2 linked regions of the Homo sapiens genome follow. The protein of the gene in region 1 purifies or fractionates together with the protein of each later gene. This does not show direct contact. Each region holds a gene or a part of one and is shown on either strand. Other genes may lie near its edges.

What was found. The genes of interacting proteins can lie anywhere in the genome.
Region 2: the proteins of ARRDC1 (region 1) and KCTD2 purify together in Homo sapiens (affinity purification with mass spectrometry; 4 studies listed by BioGRID and IntAct, with this or other methods). This does not show direct contact.

What each region holds. Positions count from the first base shown.
Region 1 is NC_000009.12:137,608,430-137,612,417, forward strand, and holds part of ARRDC1 (arrestin domain-containing protein 1), read left to right. Parts: intron 1-3,988. UniProt on the Homo sapiens protein: Functions as an adapter recruiting ubiquitin-protein ligases to their specific substrates. Through an ubiquitination-dependent mechanism plays for instance a role in the incorporation of SLC11A2 into extracellular vesicles.
Region 2 is NC_000017.11:75,049,985-75,053,972, forward strand, and holds part of KCTD2 (BTB/POZ domain-containing protein KCTD2), read left to right. Parts: intron 1-3,029; coding exon 3,030-3,121; intron 3,122-3,988.

The DNA of each region.
Region 1 (3,988 bases):
CTGCCTGGTGGCTTTCCTGTTGCGAAAGGCTCGGTTCCCTTCAGCGTGTTCTGCCATCACAAGCAGTCTGCAAGCTGGAAAGAAGAGGGAGCGGGGTCGTATGCCGCCAGCAGCAGGGAGACCCCTCACAATGGACCCCATGTATTGCTCTGGCTTCTCCGTGGGCAGAACTGCATCCTGTGGTCCTGCCTGATTCGATGATTTGAAAAGGCAGAAACATGGCCGCTGCCATTGGCCTGGCCAGTGAAAACGGGCTCCCTGGGAAATTCACCCAGCCTGACCTGAAGCAGTTGCTGAGAGGCAGAGGAGCAGCTCCAGGTGTTTTGGCAGGGAAGCAGCTGGCAGCTGTGCGGGAGCCCCTTGCCTCCCGTGTTCTTACTGAGGAGTGTGTGGGGCAGCTCGGGACAGGTTTCACTTTGGACAGTGGTTGGAGGCTGCTTACTCTGGCAGAGTCATCTCAAAGAGCCTTGGTGTATGTGCAAAACGGGGCCATCTGCATGGGCGTTGGGAAGATCACAGAACCTGGACCCTTAGGATGACCCAAGGGTCAGTTGCATACTGTTTGTTTTTGTGGAGTCAATGTCCCATGACGGTTTTCGCGATGCTTTGCTAGTAGGAGCAGTGGCGTGTGAGGCTCCCGGTTAAATACCATGAGATTCTAAGCGGAATTCTGGGTCTCCTGGTATGCACAGGTAAAATTACAGTAGACCTGTCCCACTCTTTGCCAGAACCTCGTACTTGTCTGCAGTTTGACTGGAATAAGGGGTGTTTGTGTTCCACCTCCCTCCAACGTGTGTTGAGACATTTATTTATTTATTTATTTATTTACGTTGCTCTTGTTACCCAGGCTGGAGTGCAGTGGTGCAATCTCAGCTGCTCACCGCAACCTCTGCCTCCCTGGTTCAAGTGATTCTTCTGCCTCAGACTCCCGAGTAGCTGGGACTACAGGCACGCGCCACCAGGCCTGGCTAATTTTGTATTTTTAGTAGAGACGGGGTTTCTCCGTGTTGGTCAGGCGGGCCTGGAACTCCGAACCTCAGGTGATCCGCCCGCCTCAGCCTCTTAAAGTGCTGGGATTACAGGCGTGAGCCACTGTGCCTGGCCCCAAGACATTGATTTTATTTGAGATGAGGTCTCACTTTGTCACCCAGACTGGAGTGCAGTGGTACAATCTTGGCTCACTGCAACTCCTTCCTCCGGGGCTCCCACCACAGCCTCCTGAGTGACTGGGACCAGGGGCACGCGCCACCACACCCAGCTAATCTTTGGTAGTTTTGGTAGAGATGGGGTTTCACCGTGTTACCTAGGCTGCTGTCACACTTCTGGCCTCAAGCAATCCGCTCGCCTTGGCCCCCCAAAGTGTTGGGATTACAGGCGTGAGCCACTGCGCCCAGCTGTGTCGAGACATTTAATATTTGTCAATCTGATGGATTGAAATGGTAGGTCATTTGGGCTTTCCCTGCAAGCTCCACCTTCCGGGTTCACGCCATTCTCCTGCCTCAGCCTCCTGAGTAGCTGGGACTACAGGCGCCCGCCACCACACCCGGCTAATTTTTTGTATTTTTAGTAGAGACGGGGGTTTCACCGTGTCAGCCAGGATGATCTCGATCTCCTGACCTCGTGATCTGCCCGCCTCGGCCTCCCACAGTGCTGGGATTACAGGCTGAGCCACTGCGCCCGGCCGGGTTTTCTGTAATTTCTAGTGAGGTTGGACATCTGTTCCAGTTACCTACTGCTACGTAAAAGTCGCGGTCACCTCAAGTCAGACACCATTCTTAAAACAGTTAACACAACCATTTTATTATATCTCACAGCGTTGTGGGTTAGGAATCTGGACAGTGAGGGCAGGGTTAATCTTCAGTTCTGTGCCACCAGCTGGGATCACTTGAGGGTGCTTGGCTGGCATACGGGTTAGTCTGGGGACCACTGCCCCCTTTCCGGCATCCTCTGTGGGTTCCAGCATTTTTCTTTTTTTTTTCTTTTTGAGATGAAGTCTCGCTCTGTCACCCAGGCTAAAGTGCATTTGTGCGATCTCAGCTCACTGCAACCTCTGCCTCCTGGGTTTAAGTGATCCTCATGCCTCAGCCTCCCAAGTAGCTGGGATTACAGGCGTGTGCCACCATGCCTGGCTAATTTTTGTATTTTTTTTTTGAGATGGAGTTTCACTCTTGTTGCTCAGGCTGGAGTGCAGTGGCGCGATCTCGGCTCACTGCAACCTCCGCCTCCCAGGTTCAAGCGATTCTCCTGCCTCAGCCTCCCTGGTAGCTGGGATTACAGGCATGTGCCACCATGCCCAGCTAATTTCGTATTTCTAGTAGAGATGGGGTTTCTCCATGTCGGTCAGGCTGGTCTGGAACTCCTGACCTCAGGTGATCTGCCTGCCTTGGCCTCCCGAAGTGCTGGGATTACAGGCATGAGCCACCGTGCCCGGCCTTTTTTGTATTTTTAGTAGAGATGGGGTTTCACCATGTCAGCCAGGCTGGTCTTGAACTCCTGACCTCAAGTGATCCACCCGCCTTGGCCTCCCACAGTGCTGGGATTACAGGTGTGAGCCACTGCACCCAGCTGGGTCCCAGCATTTGCGGGATTCAAGGTGGGGATGTGCAGTCTGTCAGGAGTGTTAAAAGCACGGCAGCATTTCCAGTCCCCAGGCCTCCTCTCCTTGCTTCAGCCACGCCCACCCTCCTCTGTGCCTGCTCATGCCCATGTGCTTCTGTTGGGCTGTCTGCTGGTCCACAGGAGGATTACTGGTGTTCCGGATTTTCAGCATGAACACAGTATGGGGTCTGGCCCGAGGAGGGCCTGGCTAACAGAGCATGGATTCAAAATCAGAGCAGAGCTGGGTACCGTGGCTCATGCCTGTAATCCCAACACTTTGGGAGGCTGAGGCAGGTGGATTGCTTGAGCTTAGGAGTTTGAGACCAGCCTGGACAGCATGGCAAAACCCTGTCTCTATAAGAAAAACAAAAAACAAAAAACAAAACCCAGGTGTGGTGGCACGTGCCTGTAGTCCTAGCTACTTGCGGGGCTGAGATGGGTGGATCGCTTGAACACAGGAGGTTAAGGCTGCAGTGAGCCGAGATCGTGCCACTGCACACTAGCCTGGGCGGCGGGAGTGAGACCGTGTCTCAAAAACAACAACAACAACAACAACAACAAAAAAACAAAAAATGGACCGAGGTTGGGGTGGCAAGGCTGGGCTGGAATGGAGGCTGAGGACAGGCCCTGGCAGCGCCCGGGGGTAGAGGGCGTGCAGCAGGAAGCAAGGGCCACCCTCAGGGATGGGGGACTGGGCCTGGCAGCTGCCGAGGGGTAGGCAGGATGCATGTGGAGAGCCACGTGGGGCTGCGGCTGAGCCAAGGATTGTGAGAGGAATCCTGCTGCTCTGGGTGGCAGGCAGAAGGCCTGGGCCACAGGTGGGGCCTGCTGGGGAGACCACAGGTGAGGCAGGTATGGCTGACCCTGGGCGCTCGGCACACCGGTACTCCTCCTGCCTGGCTGCTCCCTCAGCAGGTGTCAGAGTCTGAGTCACCTTTTCCTCACGTGACCCCCACCAGGACCAGGCAGGGAGGTGGCCATCTTTGGCCCTGACTCAGCCCTGCAGGGAGAAGAGGGGCTGGAGGTGCAGGTGGCCTGCCACTGTCTCCCCCAACCCCTGCCCACCTGGGTCTTGTGCTGTGTGTACTTCTGCTGCGTCTGTCCTCCCTTGTGACCAGCTTCTGCTGGACCTGATTGTCCAGCCATGATCTTCTGATCATCATGGTTTCTGGACACACATCTGTTGGACTAAGGAATTTGTGTTCCTGGCCACAGAACAGTGCCACCTCTGCCTCAAGCAGTTCCTGGTCTGGGCACTCCCCCAGGGAGGCCGGAGAGGACTGAGCCGTCTCCTGATGCAGAAAGTCAGCCCCGCTGGGCAGTGCTCGCCCAGGAAGTAGGGCCCCACCCAACGGTGTGCTGACTGTGGAACACTGTGTCTGCCTAGGCG
Region 2 (3,988 bases), on another chromosome or scaffold:
GCTCTGAGTAAGAAAGCTTGTAATGGCTGTACTAGTTAATGAAGTGACTGTGAAACAACTCTGTTTCAGCTAGTAGAAAGAGGAATTGCTCTCTCTCTCTTTTTTTAAATGTCCCTTTTTAAACAATATTTCAAACGCATACAGAAGTAATGGGAATAGTACATACAGTGAATTCCTTGCATCCACTATCCAGCTTCAACAATTACCAACTCATGGGTGATCTTAATCTTATTTATTTTTCTTTTTTAATTTTTGTAAGTACCTAGTAGGTGTATATATTTATGGGGTACATGAGATTTTTCTTTTTTTTTTCTTCGCTCAGGCTGGAGTGCACTGGCACAATCTTGACTCACTGCAACCTCAGCCTCCTGGGTTCAAGCGATTCTCCTGCCTCAGCCTCCCAAGTAGCTGGGATTACAGGCGTGCACCACCATGCTTGACTAATTTTTTGTATTTTTAGTAGAGACAGGGTTTCACCATGTTGACCAGGCTGGTCTTGAACTCCTAACCTCAAGTGATCCACCTGCCTCAGCCTCCCAGAGTGCTGGGATTACAGGCCTGAGCCTCCGCGCCCGACCTGAGATGTTTGGATATAGGCATGCAGTGTGAAATAAGCACATCATGGAGAATGGGGTATCCATCCCCTCAAGCATTTATCCTTTGTGATACAAAAATTCAATTACCCTCTTTTAGTTAAGTATCTTTTCTAATGCCTTTAATTAAAAAAACTTTATTTTGAAGTAATTTAAAACTTCAAAATAAGCAAGAAAAGAGCAAGAATAACACAGAGAACTCCCTATATCCCAGATTAACCAATTTTCAATGTTATTTTTGTCATATTTGGGGTATGGGGAGATCTTTTTGTTGTTTTTTTAAGAGTCAGAGTCTATCTTATCTTGCCCAGGCTGGTCTCAAATGTCTGGCCTCACATGCTCCTCCTGCCTCAGCCTCCTGAGTAGCTGCGATTATAGGCATGAGCCATCATGCCCAGCTTTTTTTTTTTTTTTGAGACGGAGTCTTGCTCTGTTGCCCAGGCTGGAGTGCAGTGGCGCAATCTCGGCTCACTGCAAGCTCCACCTCCCAGGTTCACGTCATTCTCCTGCCTCAGCCTCCCGAGTAGCTGGGACTATAGGCGCCCACCACCACACCCAGTTAATTTTTTGTATTTTTAGTAGAGACAGGGTTTCACCATATTAGCCAGGATGGTCTCATCTCGATCTCCTGACCTTGTGATCTGCCTGCCTCAGCCTCCCAAAGTACTGGGATTACAGACATGAGCCACCGCGCCCGACCTTTTTTTTTTTTTTTTTTTTTTTTGGCGACAGAGTCTCCCTCTGTTGCCCAGGCTGGAGTGCAATGGCACTATCACAGCTCACTGCGACATCCACCTCCCGGGTTCAAGCGATTTTCCTGCCTCAGCCTCCTGAGTACCTGGGATTACAGGTGCATGCCACCACGCCTGGCTAATTTTTTTATTTTTGGTAGAGACGGGGGTTTCACCATGTTGGTCAGGCTGGTCTTGAACTCCTGACCTCGTGATCCACCCGCCTTGGCCTCCCGAAATGCTGCGATTACAGGCGTGAGCCACCATGCCCGACCTTTTTTTTTTTTAAATCATATTTGCATTGTCCTTCATTCTCTATTTCCCCCTCCCTACCCCCATCCTCTTGCCTCTCCCACCACAGTTATTTCTGAACTATTTGAGAATAGATTGCAGATTTCACCCCTTAATATTTGTATATATTTCCCAAGAACAAGGATACTGTTTTATGTAACCACAGACAGTACAGTTATCAAACTCAGGAAATTTAATACTGATGCTTTTATCTACAGCTTATATTGCAGTTTTGTCAGTTGTCCTAATAATGGCCTTTATAGCAAATTTATTCCTATAGGATCACACGTCTCATAGTTGCCCTAAGGCCTTTGAGTTCATTTAGCATGCAAGTCTTTAAATGGTTGCCTTTTATATTGTTCAAATGATTAGCATCCTATTAAGTTTGGCCCACATAAATTTGTACACACACCTCCACCCCCACCCCCAGTCCTTTTGAGGGCAGATTGGACAAAAATATCAAGTTCAGGAGGTGTCCAACATGACTAGTTCCAGGAACTAAGTGACATATGGGAAAAGTGTCCTGCAGCTAATGGGCAGGTGCCAGGTAGGGAAAGGAGGGTTGAAATGGAGTGAGCAGAACATACCCTGGCGTTTGACTAATTTATGTTGGAGAAAAGGTCATGGGTTTACCGAAAATAGCAAAGAGATATTTCCTAGCAGAAGGAGAGAGATTGGATTTGCATTTAAATAATGCAGTTTTTAGGCCAGGAGCTGTGGCTCATGCCTGTAATCCCAACACTTGGAAGGCCAAGGTGGGCGGATCACTTGAGGTTAGGAGTTTGAGACCAGCCTGGCCAACATGGCAAAACCCCGTCTCTGCGAAAAATACAAAAATTGGCTGGGTGCGGTGGCTTTACGCCTGTAATCCCAGAACTTTGGGAGGCCAAGGCAGATGGATCACCTGAGGTCAGGAGTTCAAGACCAGCCTGACCAACATGATGAAACCCTGTCTCTACTAAAAATACAAAAAATTAGCCAGGCGTGGTGGCAAGCGCCTGTAATCCCAGCTACTTGGAAGGCTGAGGCAGCAGAATCTCTTGAACCCAGCAGGCGGAGTTTGCAGTGAGCCAAGATCATGCCATTGCACTCCAACCTGGGCAACAAGAATGAAACTCTGTTTCGGGCGGGGGGAAAAAATAGAAACAGCCGGGTGTGGTGGTATGTGCCTGTAGTCCCAGCTACTTGGGAGACTGAGGCAAGAGAATCATTTGAACGCAGGAGGCGGAGGTTGCCGTGAGCCAAGATCGCACCACTGAACTCCAGCCTGGGCGACAGAGTAAGACTCCGTCTCAAAAAATAAGTAAATAAATAAATAAGCAGTTTTTAGCAAGCATGTAACCTTCATCCTCTCCTTGGTGTTTTTCTGGCAAACCCTCGCACCTATCTGACTGCAGTTTTGTCCTTGTTCCAGGTGTGCTGGAGGAAGCGGAGTTTTACAACATCGCGTCCCTTGTGCGGCTGGTTAAGGAAAGGATACGGGACAATGAGAACAGAACTTCACAAGTAATGTATTTGGAACTGTTAAGGAGGGTTGTTTCAAGTGGGCTTCTGTCGGTCGGTCTGTGATTTGAAAAGGATGCCTTTACCCTTAGAGCTGGAGGTGTGTGTGGAACACCGTTTGCAGTGCAGGGAATGCACACTCAGCCAAACTGCACAGGAGAAAAGAAGAAACCACAAAGAAAACAGAATAGGCCTATGTCCCAATAGAATGAGAAGATTGTCGCTGCTTACCAGATGGCGGGAGGAGGCGCCCAGGGCACTTTAGGTCTAAAACCTGTTCTCTGCCCGAGTATGTCTCCCTCCTAAAGACCATAGAGGTCTTGGTTGCACCCGTTGGCCGCTCTTTTTTTTTTTATGAGATGGAGTCTCGCCCTGTCGCCCAGGCCGGAGTGCAGTGGTGCAATCTCGGCTCACTGCAACCTCTGCCTCCCAGGTTCAAGTAATTCTCCTGCCTCAGCCTCCCGTGTAGCTGGGACTACAGGTGTGTGCCACCACGCCTGACTAATTTTTGTATTTTTTTAGTAGAGATGGGGTTTCACCATGTTGGTCAGGCTGGTCTCGAACTCCCGACCTCAGGTGATCTGCCCGCCTCAGCCTCCCAAAGTGCTGGGATTACAGGCGTGAGGCACTGCGCCCAGCTTGGCCACTCTTTATGGAGATGAGCCTTTAGCATGTGATCGAGTCACATGCAGCTCCTGTGAGCCACTTGAAACCAGTCTCATGGGGTACGCTTCAGCAGCTGCTTGTGAACCATGCTTTTTTTTTTTTTTTTTTTTTTTTTTGAGACAGAGTCTCACTCTCTCCCCCAGGCTGGCCTCCCAAAGTGCTAGGATTACAGGAGTGAGCCACCACACCCAGCCTGAACCATGC